Homo sapiens: one gene and its partners. The protein of the gene in region 2 interacts with the protein of the main gene of each other region in a biochemical or structural test. Each region holds a gene or a part of one and is shown on either strand. Other genes may lie near its edges.

Region 1 (7,369 bases), on a different chromosome or scaffold from region 2:
TCCGACTTGACAGATGAGGAAACTGAGACTCAAAGAGGTGACAATCAAGTCACCTCTTTGTACAACATTACCCAGTTGATAACAGCAGTGCCAGGTTTGAACTCTAGTTGGACTCCTACGATGGAGCATTTAGCACCAGTCTTTTGTTTTTGTTTTTGTTTTTGTTTTTGTTTTTTTTTGAGGAGTTTTGCTTTGTCCCCCAGGCTGGAGTACAGTGGTACGATCTCGGCTGTCTGCAGCCTCCGTCTCCCAGGTTCAAGCAATTCTCCTGCCTCAGCCTCCCAAGTAGCTGGGATTACAGGCACCCACTACCACACCCGGCTAATTTTTGTATTTTTAGTAGAGACGGAGTTTCACCATGTTGGCCAGGCTGGTCTCGAACTCCTGACCTCAGGTGATCTGCCCACCTTGGCCTCCCAATGTCCTGGGATTACAGGTGTAAGCCACCACACCTGGCCCTTAGCACCACTTTTGTGGTCAGCTATAGTCTCCATGACAATGAATGAATGAATAATTGAGTAGACAAAATGTTTGCCACCCCCAAAGACTGGTAAGGGGGTGTTTTAGAATACAATTTGTAATTGTATAAATGTTATTTGGTGCAAATATGGGTTAGATGGGAACTTTTTTTAATTGAAAAGAATGATAATGCCAAATGTTGGCAAGGATGTGGAGCAATTGGAAATCATAAATCACTGGAGGGAATGCAAAATGGTGTAACCACTTCAAAAACCAATTTAGACCAGGCACAAAGGCTCACACCTGTAATCCCAGCACTTTGGGAGGCTGAGGCAGGCAGATGGCTTGAGCACAGGAGTTCAAGACCAGCCTGGGCAACACGGTGAGACTGTATCTCTACAAAAAAAAAAAAAATAAGCTGGGCATGGTGGTGTACCTGTAGTCCCAGCTACTCAGAGGCTGAGGTGGGAGGATCACTTGAGCTCAGGAGACAGAGGTTAAAATGAGCCAAGATCTCGCCATTGCACTCCAGCCTGGGTGACAGAGCAAGACCCTGCCTCAAAAAAAAAAAAAAAAGAAAAACAATTCAGCAATTTATTGCAAGTTAGACACACACTTGCTATATGACCCAGCAATTCCAATCCTAAGTATTTACCCGAGAGAAATAAAAATATGCCTACACAAAAACTTGTACATAAATATTTATAGCAGCTTTATTTATATAGCCCCAAATTGAAAACAACCCAAATGTCTCTCAACAAATAAATGGATAAACAAATAGTGTTACATCTATACTATGGAATACTACTCAGCAGTAAAAATGAACGAACTACTGGAACATGCAACAACATGGAAAATCTCTGAGTAAAAGAAGACAAACACAAAAGAAACATACTGTATGACTGCATTTATGAGAAATTCTAGAAAAGACAAAGCTAATGTATAATGGCAAAAAGCCAATTGGTGCTTACCTAAGGCTACCTAAGTGTGGGAGGAGTTGACTGCAATAGGACATAAGGGAACTTTTTGGGGTGATAGAAATGTTCTATATCTTGATTGGGGTGGTGGTTACACAGGTATATATATTTGCCAAAACTCATCAAGCTGAATATTTATGATGGTAGATTTTATTCACGAAATTATGTCACGATAAAGTTGACAGAAGCTTTGGGAACATACACAAGGATTTCAATTACAGCATTACTGTCAGGACAAAACATTTGGGAAACTGTCCATGAACAGGAACATGTGTCAGCTCTCTGGCTCTTTACTATCAGAATGGCAAACTTTTGAAAGGAGATGTAGCTGATGCTAATGCGGACCCTCCGATGCCCCCTGGGCCTTAAGTAAGAGCTGCACTTCTCTTCCTGGAGACCCTCTGGTGGCTGAAGCATGCACCAGGGAGGCCAAAATGCTGGAAGGTCAGTACCCCTGGAGTACCCCTCATCCGGTGTCCAACAGGAGTTGGTGTGTAAATGCCCCAGCTCCCTCGCCTGACAGGTGGAGTAACCCTGAAGTGGGTATATCTCCAGAGATCCCTGCAGAATTGAACTCCAGTTGCCCACAATGGTAACTGGCTTCATGATATTCCTTTTTACTGGCTTCCCTCCCTTCCCTGTCTCATCCACCTACTCCCCTACCAGTGTCTTCTGCATCTCCTAAATAAACTATTTTCACTTGGATCCATGTCCAGGGTCTGCTTCTGGGGAACTCAAATTAAGACCAGTGGATAATACCAAGGGTTGGTAAAGATAAGGGGAAATGATGGGAGAAAGAGTGGGGCAGTGGCGATTCTGCAAACACCTGTCATTCTTGGCAAAGCAAGTACTTAACAAAATTCTAATGTAGGACGATAAGGGGACGTGTATGAGGATGTCCACTGTGGCACTATTTACACTAGTGGGAAATTGTGTGCAATCTAGGTGTCCATGACTAGGAGAATGGATAAATAAAATGTGAAGGATGTAAACAGTGACTACACGTACAGCCGCTACCTTTGGCAACATGGCTGGATATTAACAACAGTGATGGGGGTGGCGGGAGGGAATGTACAAAAGTGAATAAGTAACATTAAACATACATTCAGAACATTATCTGTTTTTATAAAAAGCACATACAGACTAGGTGCAATGACTCACACCTATAATCCCAGTACTTTGGGAGGCCAAGGCAGGAGGTTCAGTTGAGCCCCGGAGTTCAAGACTAGCCTGGGCAATACAGCAAGACCCCATCTCTATTTTTTTTTAAGTTGTCTATGCCATACCACACCGAACACATCTGATCTTGTCTGATCTTGGAAGCTAAGCAGGATCAAGCCTGGTTAGTACTTGGATGGGAGACCCCCTCAAAATAGTTAGCACTGTAGGCTAAAGAGAAGGAAAAAAGGCCCATACAGGTACATATACCAAAAACATAAGAGTAGGGTCATTGTCTTTCTCATTCATGGTTCTTCCCCCCTTCCCCACCAGGGGACATTTTACAAATGTCTGGAGACATTTTGTTGTCACAACTAGGGAGGAGGATGCTATAGACAACTAGTGGGTAGAGCCCAGGAATGCTGTTAAACATCCTATCATTCACAGGACAGTCCCCCGCAACAAAGAATTACCTGGCCCAAATGTCAATAGTGCCAAATTTAAGAACCCCTGCATTCCCCAGCCCCCAGGACAGCTTTGCTGAATGAATTATGAATGAATGAATGAAGAAATGACTGTGGTCCTGATCAGCTGGTAGCAACGGGAATAGAGAGACGCGGTAGAATTCTTGTAGTTTTGGAGATTTTGGAGGTGTGTTACACAGCATTTAGGGTGATAGCCCCTGTCTTTTCCAGGAGAGGGTGTGTTCTGCCCTTGCCTGGAGCTGGGCACAATCCCATCCACTTGGGGCCTCAGTCACCCTCCAGCCCGACTCCTCCCCTCCCCCGACCACCTCCCCCAGCTTGGGAGTCCTCTGAGCTGCCAGGAAGCCAGGGTGGTTCCTTCGGGCAGGGAACTTTGCATGGCCATGGTGGTTCCTTCGAGAGAGGAACTTTGCATGGTGTCTGAATGGAGCAGGCCTGCGGAAGAGAAACCGCTGACCACAGACCTGCCTGGAAGTCTCGGGCCGCGGAGTTGGGGAGGGCCGGGCCAGAAGGGAGGGGTCGGAGTGGTGGGGAAAAGAGATCACGATGCTTCCGGGGTAGGGTAAGGCCTTTCCAGGGTGGGTTGGAATCTTTGAAGACTGTGGCAGGAATCCCTTGATAGGTGGGGTTAGGATCTCTGAAGGGCAGGGTTGGAATCTTTGGACCGGCGGTATAGACCCCTGGGTATTAAAACTCTTAGGCGGCGGGAGGTTAGATCGCGCAGGAGCAGGAGCGGTATTGGAACCCTGGGGTTTGTGTTCTAAATCTTAGGGCAGGGTTAGAATCCACTGAAGTGAGAGTTCGGATCCTTCCACTGGGCAGATTAGAATCTTTGGGGGCAAGTTGAGTTTAAAAATCCTTCAGAGGTGGGATTAAAAATCCTTTGGCGGGGCGGGGTTAGTATCTTGGGAGCCTTGGAGCGGGTGCTGGGGTTCTTAGACGGGCGGGTTCGAATCCCTAGGAGTGGGATTTGGGATCCTTTGGAGACTGGGGTAGGACGCTGGGCGGTGGGATGGGGAGGTGTTAGGGAAAGTGGAGCGGAAGGGATGGGGGTTCGCATCCTTGGTGGACGCGTTAGAAGCCTCCTATGGATGGTGCTAATATTTTTTTTCTCTTCGTGGAGGGTTTGGGATCCTTCTTGCAGGAGACGGAGGTTATGACCCTCGGGGAGCCGGTTAGGATCCTGGGGTGGCGTCTGAATCTTCGGGGAGGTGTTAGGACACTTGGGGCGGAGTTAGCCTCGCTCAGGGCGCGGCTAAGGCGCCCAGATGGCCTGCGGGCGCCACCACGTCCCTGGTCCCAGCTCGGGAGCACATCAGAGGCTTAGAGGCGAGTGGGAAGGGACTCAGACAGTGCAGGACGAGAAACGCCCGCGGCACCAAAGCCCCTCAGAGCGTCGCCCCCGCCTCTAGTTCTAGAAAGTCAGTTTCCCGGCACTGGCACCCCGGAACCTCAGGGGCTGCCGAGCTGGGGGGGCGCTCAAGCTGCGAGGATCCGGGCTGCCCGCGAGACGAGGAGCGGGCGCCCAGGTGAGTGCCGCGCACAGGGGACCGGGAATACCCGGCCCGCGAGGGGTCCCAGGAGGCGGAGGGAGCCCAGGAGCCTGGGGAGGGCTGGCTACGGGTGCGGCTGGGGGCAGCGAGGGGAGACGGAACGTCGGGGGAGCCGCGGGTAGCCCGGGGGATGAGGGGTCGACAGCGAGTGGAGGGTGCCCTAGGGAGGGGCGGCACTGTTGCGGACTGCTGGATTCCCGGGGAAGGGGACGCTCGGGCCCGTGCAGTGACTTTATCCACCACTTCTCTGGGCCGTCCAGGTTCCCCTTCTTGGGGGGGGGCGGGGATTTTTTTTTTAATTTAAAAAAGAAAAAGAAGGAAGGGATGGGGCTTCACAGAACCCGGGAAGGGGAAGGCCCTTACGGTTCCCGGTGGGGGCCGGGTCACGCCGGGTTGGCAGCCAGCTTGGGGAAGGGGGTAGTTGGGCGGAGGCGTGACGTGCGAGCCACACCCAGGCCGGCTGCAGCTGGTCGGCTCTCTGCCCCTCCTCCCACAACAGGTCTAGGTCAAACCCCCAAACCTCCTGGCCCCAGACCACACTGCATGCATGCCCTGTCTCTTTCCTCCTTGGACGAATTCTCCGCCTCCGAATTCGTTTCCTCATCTGTAAAACGGGGCTATGAAGTCTTTCTTGCAAGGATGCAGGAAATTGGAGTATGCGAGAGGTGGTGCGTGTGAGAGACAGGCTAGTGGGTAGCGGAGGGGGCTTCTAGGGGCAAACTGCCTGTTGGGGCTGGGGTAGAGGATTTGGCCTTTCTTTGCCTCTGTTTTCACAACTGCAGGATGGGGAGAGTAATAGTACCTCCTTCACAGGGTTGTTTAGAGGATTAATTGGGTACTGAAGGGGCCGGGCAGGGTGGCACACGCCTGTAATCTCAGCTTTTTGGGAGGCCGAGGCAGGTGGATCTCTTGAGGTCTAGAGTTTGAGACCAGCCTGGCCAACATGGTGAAACCCCGTCTCTACTAAAAGTACAAAAATTAGCCGGGCGTAGTAGCACACACCTTTAATCCCAGCTACTCGGGAGGCTGAGGCACGAGAATCACTTGAACCTGGGAGGTGGAGGTTGCGGTGAGCCGAGATCGCGCCACTGCACTCCAGCCTGGGCGACAGAGAGAGACTCTGTCTCAAAAAAAAAAAAAAAAAAAAAAAAGTTACTGAAGGAAAGCTTTGAGAATGCTGTCTGACAGTACACAGGCTTAATGTATGTTAACATTGCCCTAGCTAGACATATGGCCCCGTGTTCTCAGACTTTAGCCTACATCAGCATCACCTGGACTGCTTGTGAAAACAGATTGCTGGGCCGAATCCTAGAGTTTCTGATTCAGTAGCTCTGTGCAGGACAATGAGAACTTCCATCCCCGGTGATGCTGCTGCTGCTGATCCAAGGAGGACACTTTGAGAACCACTGGGGTAGCCTATGCCTGGCACAGAGAAAGGCCTCAATGCCTATCAGTTGCCTTATCCCATGGTTTTCTCTTTATGGTCCTTTTTTTTTTAGGGGAGGGGGTGACAGGTTAAAATACAGAAAAGTGAAGATAATAATATATTAGATGTCCCGAGAATCCACCATCCAGAATTAACAAATAATAGCATTTTGTTGTGTTTGTTTTGAGATTTTAAAAAATTAATTTACTAAAAGTAACAGAAAAAATTGAAGTCTCCCCACCTTGTATCACTCTCAGTCCTGTTTCTCTCCCTCCCCAGGGGCAACCGCTGTCATGAGTTACAGTCCTTCCAGGATGTGCCTCTGAAAATGGATTGCATATAAATGTACGCATAAACAACACGTAGGATTGTTTTGTGTGCTTTAAAAATGCTATCTATGCAGTGGTTCATGCCTGTAATCCCAGCTACTCGGGAGGCTGAGGCAGGAGAATCGCTTGAACCCGGGGAAGCAGAAGTCGCAGTGAGCCGAGATCGCGCCATTGCACTCCAGCCTGGACAACAAAAGCGAAACTCCACCTAAAAAAAAAAAAAAAAAAAAAAAAAAAAAAAAAAAAAAAAAAAAAAAAAGCCCGGACGCGGGGGCTCACGCCTGTAATCCCAGCACTTTGGGAGGCTGAGCCGGGCGGATCACGAGGTCAGGAGATCGAGACCATCCTGGCTAACACGGGGAAACCCCGTCTCTACTAAAAATACAAAAAATTAGCCGGGCATGGTGGCGGGCGCCTGTAGTCCCAGCTACTGGGGAGGCTGAGGCAGGAGAATGGCGTGAACCCTGGAGGTGGAGCTTGCAGTGAGCCGAGATCGTGCCACTGCACTCTAGCCTGGGCCACAGAGCGAGACTCCGTCTCAAAACAAAACAAAACAAAAAACTATCTAATTGTGAGACTTTTCTGCAATTCTGACAATGGGGATAGCAGAGGAGCATATTTGCCCCATCTTATCATTAAGTTGTCAAAATCTACCCAGGATGAGAAATAGAAAATAGAGGCCTCATTCATTCCTTCCAGCTGCTGTGGAGTATCCCAGCAGGTAACGACTCTACAGTATTTCTCTTTCCCCTGTGGATAAATACTCAAGTTGTTCCTAGGCGTTCACTACAACGAACAATATTGACAGGAGCATCCTGGATGTGTAGCTTTCGGCCCATGTACAGGTGGTTCTTGAGGAAAACACCAAAAGGCTGGATGGCTCCCCAGAGAGGGCACCTGTCACACTCCCCTTTGTGTGAGAGGAGTACTGTAGCCCAGAAGGGTCACCAGGGACTCTGGGGCAGAGAAGAGAGAAGAATGT
Region 2 (7,547 bases):
GTTGGGATTACAGGCATGAGCCACCTTGCCTAGCCCAGAGCATGATTTTCATAAGGAATTAAACTCAGGGGTCTAAACTCAAGATACCCACCTAGCTCCTGGTCTGTGACTTCAGGATGTTCATGGTGGAACTTTAGAGTTCTGCACCTTGCCCTTCGGCCCTCTCCTTCAGCAGACAAGGTGGCCTCTTCCAGTCCAGGGTTCGTGCCCCCAACCCACTCTAGTTCCCATCTCCTCTCATCCTCAGTACCTGTTCTATCAATGAACCATCCCTTCCTCTCAACCTCACCTACCAACCCAGATGCTTGCCTGCCCACACATTTTTAAAGAAGCCTCTACCCTTACCTCCCACTTGCTAGACAGCTACATTTCTGAAAAGAGTTGTCCACGCTTACTGTCTCCCACTCCGTCCTCAACCCACCGCAATCTGGCTTCCAATCCCTCCACTCCATCGAGACAGCTCTGGTAAAAGTTATCAGCCTTCTCATTGTCAAATGAAATGAACACTTGCTTTCTGGTCCTTTCTTGATGAAATTTCCTGTGACATTTGTGAATGTTGCTCATTCCTTCCTTGTAAAAGCAATTTCTTCCCATGCCCCCTGGTTCTCCTCTGGTTCTCTTCTTCTCATTATTCACTCTCCCAACAGCTTGAACTGGCAAGAAAGACAGTGCAGGGTGGTGAAGAGCCTGGACTCCAATGCTCCTTGATATGGTTTGGCTGTGTCCCCACCCAAATTTCATCTTGAATTCCCATATGCATTCCCCTGCACAAACTCTCTCTCTCTTTGCCTGCTGCCATCCACGTAAGACATGACTTGCTCCTCCTTGTCTTCTGCTGTGATTGTAAGGCTTCCCCAGCTGCGTGGAACTGTAAGTCCAATTAAATGTCTTTCTTTTGTAAATTTCCCAGTCTCACGTATGTCTTTATCAGAAGCCTGAAAATGGACTAATACACTCCTCTACTCACTAGTGGTTGGCCTTGGGCAAGTTACTCAACACTCCTGTGCCTCAGTTTCCTCAACTGCAAGATGGTGTAAGGCTTTTTAGTCTCATTGTTTTCCATGTCTGAACATGCATCATGTTCTCAGATCATGCTGAACCTGGTAGAGTCACCCACATATATTATGTGTTCATGCTCAGTCTTTACTCAGGCACTTGGGAGTGCCCAGCCAGTATCTGTGAATATATGCATGAACACTACTCTGGATTGGGTTTCCCCAGAAGTATACCTTGAGACAAGGAGATGGGTGCAGTTACTTTATTTGGGATCCCAAGAACAAATAAGGAAGTGAGAAAGTAAGGCAAGGAAGGGAGAAGAGGCAAAATCAAAGAGTGACTTAATGAGGGAGTGACTGCTGGGGGCAACTGGACTCATTCCTACTGGGGAATTCCTCTGAGGAACTGCCTTGAGAGCATTTGAGAATTGATCTTCCTTAGGGAAGGGGAGGCTGACACATTCATCCACTGTTTGGTTAAGGACTGACCCAGGGCTGTTGGAAACTTCCAGGCTAGGCAAGATCCCACAGCCCTTGAGAAAGCCTCCTGGTAGAGAGGAGAAAGGGGGCCTGCTTTGGATAGACAGTTTCTCTGTACAGAGGGCAGCTCATTGCAGCTGCCGGTGAGCTCAGAGGTGGGCCCAGGGGACATGGAGCCGAGCATCACTAACACTCACGCTTGTTACTCTGGTTGGCAGGCCTGTGCCCCCTTATCTAGCTACATAGGTCCCATCTCCTCCTTGAAAGTTCGTTCAAGAGCACCCACTTCTTGGAAGCATTTTCCAACTTATCTCCACCCTACTCCACCTTCAATGTTCTGAATAGCCCTGGATACCCTGGACATGACTCTATAAGAGTACTTATCTCTCTGCTTACTAGATAGAGCTTTCCTGTCTTTCTTAGCAAGAATAGTTCTTTTTCATCATTGCACATGTAGGGCCCAGATTTTTTTAGCACATTACAGGCACTTAACCGATGCCTTAAAATGAATTCAAGTTCACCTTGCTCAGGGACCCACTCAGAGCAAGTGGTCAACAAATGTGGACTCCTTTCCTCCATCTGATTTAGGAGAACAGTCATCTAGTGAGTATACAATATGACAAATATATTCTTTAAACAGAAATGCCAAGGAAGCACAAAGGAGGGAGTAATTAACTGGGACTATACCAATGAGACTATAGTTACCTCATTTGACAGTCTTAATTACTTAGGTTTTTTTTTTTTTTTTTTTTTTTTTTTTTTTTGAGACGGAGTCTCACTCTGTCACCCTGTCTGGGATGCAATGGCATGATCTCAGCTCACTGCAACCTCTGCCTCCCGGGTTCAAGCGATTCTCCTGCCTCAGCCTCTGGAGAAGCTGGGATTACAGGTGCCCACCACCACGCCCGGCAATTTTTTGTATTTTTAGTAGACACGGGGTTTCACCATGTTGGCCAGACTGGTCTCAAACTCCTGACCTTAGGTGATCTACCTGCTCGGCCTCCCAAAGTGCTGGGATTACAGGCGTGAGCCACCGCGCCTGGCCTACTTATAGTTTTAGTTTTCCAGAAGCACTAATAGAGCCATCTGGTGCTCCTTCCACCGCACTGGGCGTTCCCTTTTGAATCTCTCCACCAAAGAGGAAGCCACAGGGAGCTGCGGGACCGAGTGAACCACCCTACCTCAGGCAGAGGTCCCATCTGCAACTCTAGTTTGTTTGCTTCTTTCATTTATTCAACACGTGTTTATCGATGGTCTCATATGGGCCAGCACTGTTCTAAGGAAACAGGCAAAGGTACTGCTGTAATGCAGTTTACCCATGCAGTGGGGAGAGTGGGGGGCAGATAAAAAATAAGCAACCAATCATGTAGGCTACATTAAACAGTGACAAGGGCTATGAAGCAATCAAACAGGATGCGCTATGTTTGGGAGAGGTGGAGGTGGGGTGTAGGTGCCAGAGACAAGCAGATCACATGGTTGGGGAAAACCTATCTGCGGAGCTGACTTCTGGGCTGTGAGCTGCGTGCCAAGAACAGCCATACAAGGGTTCTTCCAGGCAGAGGGGACGGCAGCTACAGTGGGCCTGGAGCAGGACCCTGGGACTCCTGGTGCCCAGCTCAGAGCTGTCCTACTGCTTCTGGCCACGGAGAGAGAATTGCAGAAAAGGAACAATGCTGGGTCTAAAACTGGTATCTGTTCCTTACTTGGAGTAAACGAGCTGGTACCCAACTTTCAGTTCCCAGCAGGTTCATTTCAGGCTTCTGTTTTCGCTCATGAGCATGTTGTTCCCTCTTCAAAGTCTGATTGGGTTTCAAAGGAATCTGAAACACTTACAGCAAAACCACCAAGCTGCATCCTCCAGGTAGACACCCCCGAAATGTGGCATTTCCGTGGGAAACCACAATGAATCACTCATTGGCTGCCCGACCTCTCTGCCCAGTCAGAGATTGATTTTGGTTTTCCCAAACTTTGTAAATCCGCTCCAGACTGTTTAACAACCCCCACTCCCCACTACACCCAGACTCTCAGATTAGGAGCAAAATCCCAAATTTTGTGAGGTTTTCTGTTTCGGATTTCACCAGAAGGGGGTCTGCCACAGCCACTAACCATTTCCTCTGCAGAGAGCCGTTTCTGAAATGCTGCAAAGAAAAACAATCACCCAATGATTAGGAGGGAAATTAAGTTCTAAAGAAAGACTACTGTCTCTGACTTTGAAAGTAGACATAGATATGCACAATATACATCCCACAAATTAAAATCCTCCTTTCTCTGATGTCTTTTAATGGTAATAATAAGGACAAGCATGGCTATCATTTATTTGGGCGTTTCCAATGTGCCAGTCCCTGTCTAAACATTCAGCTTCCAGATCAAACCTATGAGGGTGGAATTAACATCCATTTCATAAATGGAAACTGAGGCTCAGGAAAGTTGAGCGAGTTACTCAAGGTAACATGAGTAGAAAAAAGGCCATATTCCAACCGGACACAGAGCCTGCAGCCCACACAATTACTCTCCATACTGTTCCTATACTATCCTGACTGGGAAGGTCCTGTTCCCTTGGCACTGGGCAAAAATAAAATTATAAGAGCAGAGAGGAAGTGGTGAAAGGGGGCAGCCTGGTGAAATCATTCCTTTACTGAAAATAGGGGTAACGGCCAGGACAGTGCAGGTCCATCCTCTGCAGATGGAAGACAGGCACGTCCTTTGCCGCTGTCCCGGCCTTAGAAAGGCACCTTCCGCGTCCAGGGTTTTCTGTGGATAAATCCCACCCCTTCCACCTCAGGCGGGGAGGAGGCCGGCCGGCCGGGGCATGGGGCGGAAGGCGAAGGACGCCCGACCCCGGCCGAGGTCTGGGGCCCCTCCCACGCCCCCCTCGTGGCTGCCGGCGGGCCAAGGGTTAAGCGAGGCGGGAGCCCCCGGCGCGGAGCGGCTCGGGGCCGGGAATGCTTAGTCAGGATTCCGATTTCCTGTCGAAGTGTTTGGATTTCCTGAAACCCGCGCCCTCCGCCGCCGAGCGGGATCGTGCGAGCCGCTCGCGTCGCCGCGGCCTCCTCCCCCTCGGCACATGGTCGCCCGCCCCTTCCTGCGCCGCGCTCGGCTCCCGCGCCTCGCCTGGCCTGGCCGCTGCCGCGGGCGAGCACTGTGCGCTGGGCAGCCCCGGGCCCGCGCCTCCCGCCCAGCCGGCGCTTCCCGGTCGCAGTTCGCTTTCCCACCCGAGAGCCGCGAGCGCCCGGCCGAACCCGCGATGGAATAATGCCCAGCGGCCCGCCAGGTCCCGGTGAGTTGCGGGGCGCTCGGGCGCGCTCGGCGGGGCCGGGCGGAGTCGCCCACAGTCGCGGGCGCCCCCTGCCCAGTCTCTCGCGCGAAGAAGGGCGCCGGGACGGGGCGCGGGGCGGGCTCCCGGCTCCTCTCGCAGCGGGGTGTCCTTCTCCGCGGGGAGGGCGCCGGCCCTGGGCTGGGGCGTGTGCGGGACGCGCGGCCAGGCTCTGCGGGGCCGGGCGAGGCCGCCCGGTGGGGGGGGGAGGTCTCCTCGCCTCCAGCTCGGGAGAGGGGGCCCCTGCAGTGGGGCCGGGGACGGGGCCCGCCCTGGGGGGTTTCGCGTCCCCCTCCGGGGGAGGGCCCGGGACGACGTGCTTGGCGGCCCGGACCCCGCCGATGGGGCGCCCTCCCGGCATTGTCTCTGGTGCAGCCGAGGAAAGTTCCCCGCGGCCCCCGGCCCCTACCCGGACCCGGCGCTGCTTGGCAGGCCCCAGGCCACTTGCCTAAAGCAAAAGAAGAGAAACGAAAGGGAAGGGGGTGGGGGGAGTCCTACTTGGAGCTTGGGGTTGGCTCCTGGGCGGACCGTGAAGTGGCTTGTGTTTTCTGCTTGTACCATTTTGGGACCTGCTGCGTTTTCTGAGAGCGACATGAAGTTTCAAAGAAAAAAGAAACTTGCCGGTGTCCGGTTTTCTGCGGTTTGATACATCCCAAGAGGTTCATCTTGGGCACTTCTAAAGCAGTTTCCTTTAATAATGTGGTTTTCCAGTAGCTCAGGGAGAAGGATGGTCAACTGCAGACCATCATCGTTAACTTGACCTCAACTTTACCTGTACTCGTCAGGAAAGCAAAAGAACTTTCTCTCGCATTTTCCCCTGTCTACTCTGTTAGGTTATCTTGGCGTGATTGATTCTGGGATGACATCAGGACCTGGATTGCTGAGTAATGTTTTGGGATTGTAAAAGCTTATCAGTTTTTAGGCCAGGGTTATCTGTATTGCAACCTTCATCCCAAAGCCTTTCTGTTTTGCAATTGTAGCGCGGCCAGATAGCTTTAAGAAAATGCGGGTCTTCTGGAAACACCCAGTGAACAGTTTGGAAAGAAAAAGATCTTTGAGAACAACTGATTCACCCCCTTCAGAGAAGGCCCAGAAAGGTGACCTGACTTGCCCAAGATCACATGGCCAGGAGTAGTTTCCACTTCTTCAGGCTCAGTCCCATGCCCCTTCTGTGTTAGATTTTGATCTGTTAGCCATGAAACAGATTTGGAAACGTCTTCTTTGCGTCACAGCCTTCACCACTTTAGTGCCTTCTCTTCTGTCCTGTTAATGCTGCTATTTTTGAGATATGCACTTATTTCAAACTGCATATTTTGAGATAGGGAGTTAAAAAAAACAAAAATCACCTAACGCCACTAAGTGGATTTGGAGATTCAGCTACCAAATGGATTTGAAGTATAAAATGAGTGGCTTATTATACGGGGAATTACTTTCCCTATCCCATTCTTTTGTGCAAAATAGAAACTCCCAGGTCCAAAAAAGGGCAGTATCTTAGCACATAATGTACCCTCTGATGTTCTCTAGACTTGATTTTCAGCCCTCCTGTTTCTTGTGAGCTAAGCAGCCCATCTATTTTTCTCATGAGAGCTCTGAATGGCTGGTTTTTCATTTTTAGTATGTGATAATGTTGGAGAGAAAGGACTTTTCGCAAGCTTGCCATTTGGTGAGGGAAATTGAAATTCTCTACACCTCCCCAGTCCTCACCAGCCACAGCGAGCCAGATTTTCAAAATCAGTGCAAGCCTGGCAGGCCCAAAGATGAATGTGTGCATTCAGATTGAGCCCTCCCTTGTGAAGACTCACGTCCCAGCTGGCATCTCCATGCTGCACCTAGGTGACTGAAGTCTAGAGGAAAGAAGGGAACCCCAGTTAGCTAGGACAGTGTTGTTCCTGCCATTTCCCCACCTAGGTCTCAGCCGTATTTGGATCCTGCTGCTCGGTTCTCATTTTTCCCTGCCGTTTTTTCACCCAACCACTGCTGTATCTGGCATGGGCTCCGGAAGGTCTTTTCTAGGAGACTGCATGAGTGATCCCCACGTGAGCAATAGTAACAGTCACCCCATTTATTAAGCACTTGCTGTATGCCCTAGACATGTTACCTCCTAAGAAGTCCTAAGGAGGAGCGGAAACTTCTTGGGGAGCCTTGCCCAGAAAGGACAGCACATCTCAGATTTATCTGGAATCGAGTTTTTCTTTCATGCATCCAGTGAAACATTTGCTAAGTGGCTTCCCTGTGGGAGGTGCCAGTCCTGCAAAGATGAATAGGACCCTGTTCTCAAGGCCTTCTATTTCCAGCCTCATCTTTCAATGTCAGCCTCACACTTTCTCTTTTAATTCATCAATTGAACAACCATGCATTGAGCACCTGCGCCATGCTAAGCCCTGTGTGGAGTCCTGATGATACAGTGGTGGACGAAATAGACCTGGCACTGCCCTTCTGGAGCTTGCATTCCTCTGGAGGAGATGAGCAACAAGGAAGAAGCAGAAGAAACAACCTCTAACAGATGAGTGATTCCTTGTTATCAAGGAAACAAACCTGGGACCAAAGTAGGGGCTGGTGGCACAAGTTGGTCCTAGTTTTGGAAGGGAAAGCCTTTCTGAGATTGGAAAATGGAGAAGGAACTGGCCAGGCAGAGAGATTGCAGGGGAGGGCCTTCCAGGCAGAGGGATGGGAATGTGCAAAGTTGACTATGCACAAAAGAGCTTGGTGTATTCCAAGGAGTGAGGGAAGGCAGGGCTAGAGTGTAAGGGAGAGATGGG
Region 3 (7,336 bases), on a different chromosome or scaffold from region 2:
GTCTCACCCTTCCAGTTAACCTCATAAGTCATCCTGGGCTCCCTGGTCAGATTAGACTCCATCCCTTCTTGTACATTTACCTTCACCACTGCTTTTGCTCTTTTGAGCCACTGAACTTGAAAGAAAGACTTCACCTTTCTCACTTGGCTCACTACAAATTCGTTCTATTGTGACTGCATCTGTCTCATTTCTTAGCACCTGAGTTCCTGAAACTCCCAGTTTTCTTGATGCCTTTCATTCCTAGTAGATCAACCATATGAGAAGATAAAGGCTGTTAGCTGGGAATTCCTTCATCCTACTCAATAGTTTTGTCTAGAGCAGTAGTTTTCAACAGGGCTACACATTATAATCATCTAGGGAGCTTTAAAAATACTAATTCTTGCATGCCACTGTCCAGACATTTTGATTCATGTCATTTGGAATATGGCCTGGGTATTAGAATTTTTAGTTCTTCAGGTGATTGTGATGGTCACCTGAGGTTGAAAACTACTGTTTTTGAAGCTCTGTCTCATTAGGTTTCCTTTACCAGGAGAGAAGACACACGGGCCCTTTCCAAGGCTGTCTCCTCTTTGGCCTCTGCAGAATTCTGCATCTCCCTCAGGACCTTTCTTGTTCTCCAGTACATCATCTCTGTTGCGTCTGCAGTCTCTGCCTGCTTTCTATTTACAAATGCATATTTTTTCTTTTCTTTTTTTTTTTTTTTTTTTTTTTGAGACGGAGTCTCACTCTGTCCCCCAGGCTGGAGTGCAGTGGTGTGATGTTGGCTCACTGCAACCTGTGCCTCCCGGGTTCAAGCGATTCTTGTGCCTCAGCCTCCCCGAGTAGCTGGGATAACAGGTGCCTGCCACCATGCCTGGCTAACAAATGCATGGATTTTGACTTAAAATTTATTTTAGTTGATGTTATCATTTGCCAATATTTTCTTTCCAAATATTTTGCCCATTGGTCTGCTGTGATCTGCCCTCTGCACCTTCCAGAAACATTAATATCTATGGCTCTTCTGAATCCTCACATTTTACCTTGAGGGTATTTGATGAGGCCACTTTGTCCCTTGAAATTCTCCTTCCCTTGCTTCTCTAATACAAAAGTTTATTGAGTTTCCAAACTGCTACTATTGCTGCCTTTCTCAAGTTCCTCAAACTTTTGCCTTGGTTCTCTGCCCTGTCCTCTCCTGTGATTACCCTAGCCATTCTCTTGGCTTAACTAGCACATCCAAGCAGAGCCCCCTCCCTCTGATCCTTTCCTTCAATTCCAGCTTCACCCTTTCAGCTGTCTAGTGGACATATTCAATGCATGACCTTACTGTAGAGCTCAGTGTATTTAATCATAAGCTGTTCATTTGGCGGGGAATTCTGTACACCAGGTAGCACTTCTGTGGTAAGTGGTTGGTACAATTTTCATGTTTCTAGTCTATTACTGTAGCTTGGAAGCTCTTTGAGAGCAGTATTAAACATCTTGTACCACAGGCCTAAACAGTGCCTTGCACCAAGGTATATATTTGTCATTTTTATTTGAGGTGGATTGTTTTCTTTTCTTTTCTTTTCTTTCTTTCTTTCTTTCTTTTTTTTTTTTTTTTTTTTTTTTTTGAGACACAGTCTCACTCTGTTGCCCAGGCTGGAGTGCACTGGTGTGATCTCAGCTCACTGGAACCTTCACCTCCCAGGTTCAAGTGATTCTCCTGCCTCAGCCTCCTGAGTAGCTGGGATTACAGGCATGTGCCAACACACTTGGCTAATTTTTGTATTTTTAGTAGAGACAGGGTTTCGCCATGTTGGCCAGGCTGGTCTCAAACTCCTGACCTCAGGTGATCCACCCACCTCGGCTCCCCAAAGTGTTGGGATTACAGGCGTGAGCCACCGTGCCCAGCCTGAATTTTCTTTTAAGGCCCTAAAACTGCACACTTTCTCTATTCTCTTTGCTATAATCTTTTTATTGATTCCAAGTCGTCTTGTTCCACTGGTTCTGTCTACATTATGAGTCTCTTGGAAGCTGTTAAATTCTTTTTCAGTATGACCTGTGAGGAAGCAATTCAAAATTGTTACTCATTTTAACACACTGATAGAAATCATGATGAGTTTTATGAAGTAGCTTGCTCTCAGGAGAAACATTGGCCATGGTTTGCTTTAGTTTCTTTTGGCTACCTCACTGCAGATCTCTCTTGTTTTAGGTTATGTTGTTTTTTATAATGGCATCAAGGTATAACTACAGAGGAGCAATGACTAGTATTAATGTGACTGTCCTGAATATTACAGTTATTAGTGAAAAATCATTAGCTGAGTAATCATATCATTTATAGCACACTGAATACCTCAGTGGTACTTCTCAAACTTGAATGTGCACATGAAACACTGGGGTATTGTTAAAATACAGATTCTGATTCTCCTAGGACTGTGGTGGGGCTGAAAATGTGAAAATGTGCATTTCTAACAAGGTCCCAGGTGGTGATGATGCTGATCTAGGAATCGCAAGTAATGAATACTTGTAACCGAAACAATATGATGCAAAAATGTATAAAGTCAAACATCTTCACACCTGAGGTGAATGAGTAATACACTTTTTTTGCACCTTTCCTTATTGTTCATATATTCACACATATTTAGGGGGGGTTATTAGTTTATTTTTACCAACAGAATTAAACTGTATCCATGATGCTATTAACTTTTCCATTTAAAATGTGGAAATCCCTATAAATAAGTAGATGCAGAATAATTTTTTCTAATTTATTTGTAGACTGAGAATTTCATAAGTAATAGCTGTATTTTAGAGCAATTTTTTTCGTTTTGCTCATCTCATCACCTGTAATTATTGATTTAATAATCCACTTAGAAATATTTTATAGCATTTTCTCATTTGTTGTAAAGATTTTTAATGGAAATCCTATGTTTGACTATTTAAGTGAACTAATTATCATAAGCCATAATAGAGAAATTAATTCAAAATAAGACATGAATTACAACAAAACAGACAATACCAAATCTTGCCAAGGACATAAAGAACAAAAACTCATACACTGCTGATAGGGTATAAATTAGTACCATTTTGGGAAACCAGGTAGTAGTATCTACTAAAGCTGACGTATAACATGCCTGTGACTCAGCAGTGTTATGTGTTTGCCAGAAGACTTGCACCAGGACGTTCTTAGCAGCGCTATTTATACTAGCCCTAAGCTGGAAACTGCCCACTTACCCAGCAACAGTAGAATCAGTATGTTAGGGTATATCATATGTGAAATATCAGCAATGAGAATGAACAGACTACAGACACACACAGTATAGATGCATCTCACAAATGTGATATTTAAAGGACAGGAGAAGCCACCACACAGTGCATAATTTCATTGTATAGTACAAAAAAAGGCAACACAAGTTTGTGCTCTTATAAGTTAGGATATTGTTCACCTTTGGTGTGTGGTAGAGAAGTGAGAGGGTTGAGAGGTTGGGGGTAGGCAAGGACTAGAAAGACAGGAAGAGTGTGAGTGGGCAGATAATGTTCTGTTTCATAATCTGGGTGCTGTTATGGGGTGGAGGGTTTTCAGAGCTGCACACAAAGTCTGTAGACTTTTCTCTGTATGTATTATACTTGAAGAAAAAAGTACATAAATAATGGTTCATCCTGGCCTGTGGCTGTTCTGAAGAACATTCATTTGTATTAATGGGGTCCATCATTTGGAAGGTGAGCCCCAAGCATCATCATTCTTATTCAAGTTCAATTTTGGTGTAGTGGAGTTTTGGAATTGGATTCATGGGATGCAGTCCCATATGGGGGAAACATGACAACCTTCCTGAGAGTTGATGTAAACTGGGAATCATAATGAGAACTAATAATTTGCTCATAGATTTGCTGTAGAACAATTACCATCCTTACAGAATTCAGAATTGACAACGTGCAATATTAGAATGAAATGAAACTTCAGTAGCCTAAATGGCAAAGAATTAAAAACTGCCTTTTGAAGTGACAGTATGGAACAGAACCATATATTCCATAGGAAAGCTATCCTTGGAGTTAATGAAAGAGTTTAAGATACTAAAATTGTATCTTAACATTAGCTTACAAAATTGGTATCAGAAAGCAAATGCCATAAAACAGGTATCCCAGCAAGAAGGTGGTGTTATTATTGATGTATTGTGGGGAATGTAGTTTCAGACGCCGGGGGACGTTCCCCTATCCTTAGGAATTGCCGAGGAAAAGTGACTCCCCCGGCTGTGACCTGCCTGGTGGCGTGGGATGACCACCGCAAGAGAACATTTGACCCTTCCCGGGACCGGCCCGGGCGGGGCGGGGCTGGGAGGCGGGCGCACATCGATGGCGTCACCTTCTGGCGCCGCCGGTTGGTTTCCCTGGCAACTGGAGCAATCAGAGCACCGCAGCCAGGGAGATGCTGGCGAGACGACAGCGAGATCCTCTCCAGGCCCTGCGGCGCCGCAATCAGGAGCTGAAGCAACAGGTATGGTCAGGCTGTGCAGAGGGCCCTGGGGCGGGCGACAGGCGGACGCAGCTGCGCGCACTGCGCCTTCCCACCGTGACCCCACCTAATCCTGGGAGCTTGCCCCCAACCTACTTACCTTCCCAGGTTGTAACGCCCCCTTACCCCATAACATTCCAGCACCCAACCCCGATTCAAACCCCTCCTGATCCCAACTCAACCCCCAGCCAAAGGCGAAACCTCCCAAAATTCGTGACCATCAACTAAGCGCCCCCTCCTCCGACCCTCACTCCCACCTAACGTCTCAACCTCCTACCCTAACAACTCACTAACCCACCTTATCTCCCAATCTAAACTTAGTGGTGTAACCATTTCCAACCCAACTCTGAGCCTAGCTCCTCTCCTCCACTTTCCAAGCCCATTTCCTTTCAGCCTTCCTCAAGTGGAGATTATTATTGCCTCCGTGAACTCAAGCGAAATAGGTGTCAAGAAATAGTCTTAATATGCAAGAACATTAAGATCTGATAAATGAGCAAAGGAGGTGAACGAGAGAGGAAATACAAGTAACTCATAAACATACGAGGAATGTTAACTTCAAAGATACTCAAGTAATTGCAAAGCACATAAGGTATCACAAAAATGTTAAAAATCACAACACTCTGTCTTGAGGAAGGTGTGATGAAGCAGGCACATTCACTGCTCCCGTGTATAAGGTGCTTGTACAGCATTTCAGGAAAGCAGCTTGACAAGGTGTAACATATGTGTATGCACCTAGGCTCAAAAATTACATTTCCAGGGATCTGCTATGTGTAATAATTAGAAAGTAGGACAGAGATTGATGTATAAAAGTATTCATCACATTGTTACTTATATAATATACACAGAACAGCATAGAAGGGAACAGGCTAATATGGTATTTCTGTGTGACAGGATGCTGATGATTATTATGATTTTCTTTATTCTTTTTCATATTTATAAAAATTTTTAGGCCAGGTGTGGTGGCTCATGCTAGTAGTACCAGCTACTTGGGAGGCTGAGACAGGAGGATCACCTGAGCCCAGGAGTTCGAGACTAGCCTGGGCAACATAACAAGACTTGGTCTCAAAAAAAAAAAAACTTTTTAAAAATACACTGAGTTCTTATTAAAAATAAGAAAAAAGTAAATAGCAACCAGTGGGTTTATTTTCTGACATTTTAATTTCACTTTAATTTTTTTCATGTGATCTATTACCAAGTATTTTTCCACTGAGTAAAATTATTTTATAATCTGAGGCCGGTAAGAGATTCACTGATGCTCATATTTTATCCATTTTTGTTCTCTTGTTTAAAGTAAAAAGGATTTGGAAGGTAAATATTTAGGTGACTGTGTATTGGAATCACAGTGGTGCAACAAAAGCTAAATACTCTTCTGGTAGAAATAAAAAATAAAACTTGATGGGGCATTGACTTATGCTGAACTTCGGTGGATCTTAATATGGTTCTGTGTCTTATTTTAAAATTTCAACTTTTATTTTAGATTCAGGGGGTACATGTGCAGGTCTGTCACATGGGAACACTGTGTTATGCTGAGGTTTGGGGTACAGATGAGCCTATCACACAAGCAGTGAGCACAGTACCCAATAGGCAGTCTTTCAGTCTTCATTCCTCTTCCCTCCCCCACCCCACTCCAGCAGTCACCAGTGTCCATTGCTCCCATCTTTATGTCCATGTGTACTCAACGAGTGAGAACATATGGTATTTGGTTTTCTGTTCCTATGCTAATTCACTTAGGACAATGGCCTCCAGCTCCATCCATGTTGCTGCAAAGGACATGATTTCATTCTTTTTTATGGTTGCATATTTTTTCATGGTGTATATGTACCACATTTTCTTTATCCAGTCCACCATTGGTGGGCATCTATGTTGATTCCATGTCTTTGCTATTGTGAATAGTGCTGTAGGGAACATACACATGCATGTGACATTTTGGTAGAATCATTTCTTTTTTGGGGGTATATACACGGAAATGGGATTTCTGGGTCAAATGATAGTTCTGTTTTACGTTGTTTGGGAAATCTCCAAACTGCTTTCCACAGTGGCTGAACTAATTTTCATGCCCACCAACAGTGTATATGTGTACTCTTTTCTTGTCAGCCTCACCAGAATCTGTCATTTCTTGATTTTTTAATAATAGCCATTTTGACCAGTGTGAGATGGTACCTCATTGTAGTTTTAATTTGCATTTCTCTGATGATTAGTCATGATGAGTTAATTTTAAATTTAGTGGGACATTAGGAGAACCAGGAAAAGTTTTAGAAGGAAACTATAAAAATGATTATTAAAACAAACTATTAGAAAGATTATTCTCCCTGGAGAAATATTGGCTCTGGAGCCTTTTGATACCTTGACTATCTGGAAAGTTTGTTTTGATAGTATTAGCTAATTCTTCCCTGTCTTCACAGAGGACACCTGAAGCTGAATATGGAACAGATTTTCTATTCGGTGTCTGTAGGACAAGTAATCAACAGCCCCTCTGAGTCAGGCCTGTGATGACTGGCTCTATCACTAGGTGTGTGAATTTTGTAAATAACACTCAGATGGATGCCAAATTGCAAGAGTAGAGAAGAAACTAATGGAATTTTCTCTTTTTTCATCCACTTTATCTTCTCTACGTAATCTATAGAAAACAGACCAAAGAAGTATGTGCCTTTTTGGAGAGTATATTGACAAAGTTACATATAGTGTTAGTAAACAAACTACTAAGTCAAGAGAAACAAAGTCATGATACATTCAATACAATGGATACCACTCAGTAATGAGAAGGAATGAACTAATGGTACACACAACAATATGGAAGTATCTCAAAAACATGCTTTGTGGAAAGGTTACACAAGAGTGCTTACTGTATGAGTCCATTTATATAAAATTTCAAGA

Evidence for each region. The genes of interacting proteins can lie anywhere in the genome.
Region 1: the proteins of ASAP1 (region 2) and HCK form a complex in vitro, tested with the Homo sapiens proteins (one study listed by IntAct).
Region 3: the proteins of ASAP1 (region 2) and NPHP1 form a complex in vitro, tested with the Homo sapiens proteins (one study listed by IntAct).

Annotation. Positions count from the first base shown.
Region 1 is NC_000020.11:32,047,879-32,055,247, forward strand, and holds the start of HCK (tyrosine-protein kinase HCK), read left to right. Parts: upstream 1-4,363; 5' UTR 4,364-4,546; coding exon 4,547-4,608; intron 4,609-6,337; exon of another isoform or gene 6,338-6,401; coding exon of another isoform or gene 6,402-6,403; intron 6,404-7,369. UniProt on the Homo sapiens protein: Non-receptor tyrosine-protein kinase found in hematopoietic cells that transmits signals from cell surface receptors and plays an important role in the regulation of innate immune responses, including neutrophil, monocyte, macrophage and mast cell functions, phagocytosis, cell survival and proliferation, cell adhesion and migration.
Region 2 is NC_000008.11:130,440,665-130,448,211, reverse strand, and holds the start of ASAP1 (arf-GAP with SH3 domain, ANK repeat and PH domain-containing protein 1), read left to right. Parts: upstream 1-4,537; 5' UTR 4,538-4,752; intron 4,753-7,547. UniProt on the Homo sapiens protein: Possesses phosphatidylinositol 4,5-bisphosphate-dependent GTPase-activating protein activity for ARF1 (ADP ribosylation factor 1) and ARF5 and a lesser activity towards ARF6.
Region 3 is NC_000002.12:110,202,008-110,209,343, reverse strand, and holds the start of NPHP1 (nephrocystin-1), read left to right. Parts: upstream 1-4,330; 5' UTR 4,331-4,375; coding exon 4,376-4,444; intron 4,445-7,336. UniProt on the Homo sapiens protein: Together with BCAR1 it may play a role in the control of epithelial cell polarity. Involved in the organization of apical junctions in kidney cells together with NPHP4 and RPGRIP1L/NPHP8. Does not seem to be strictly required for ciliogenesis.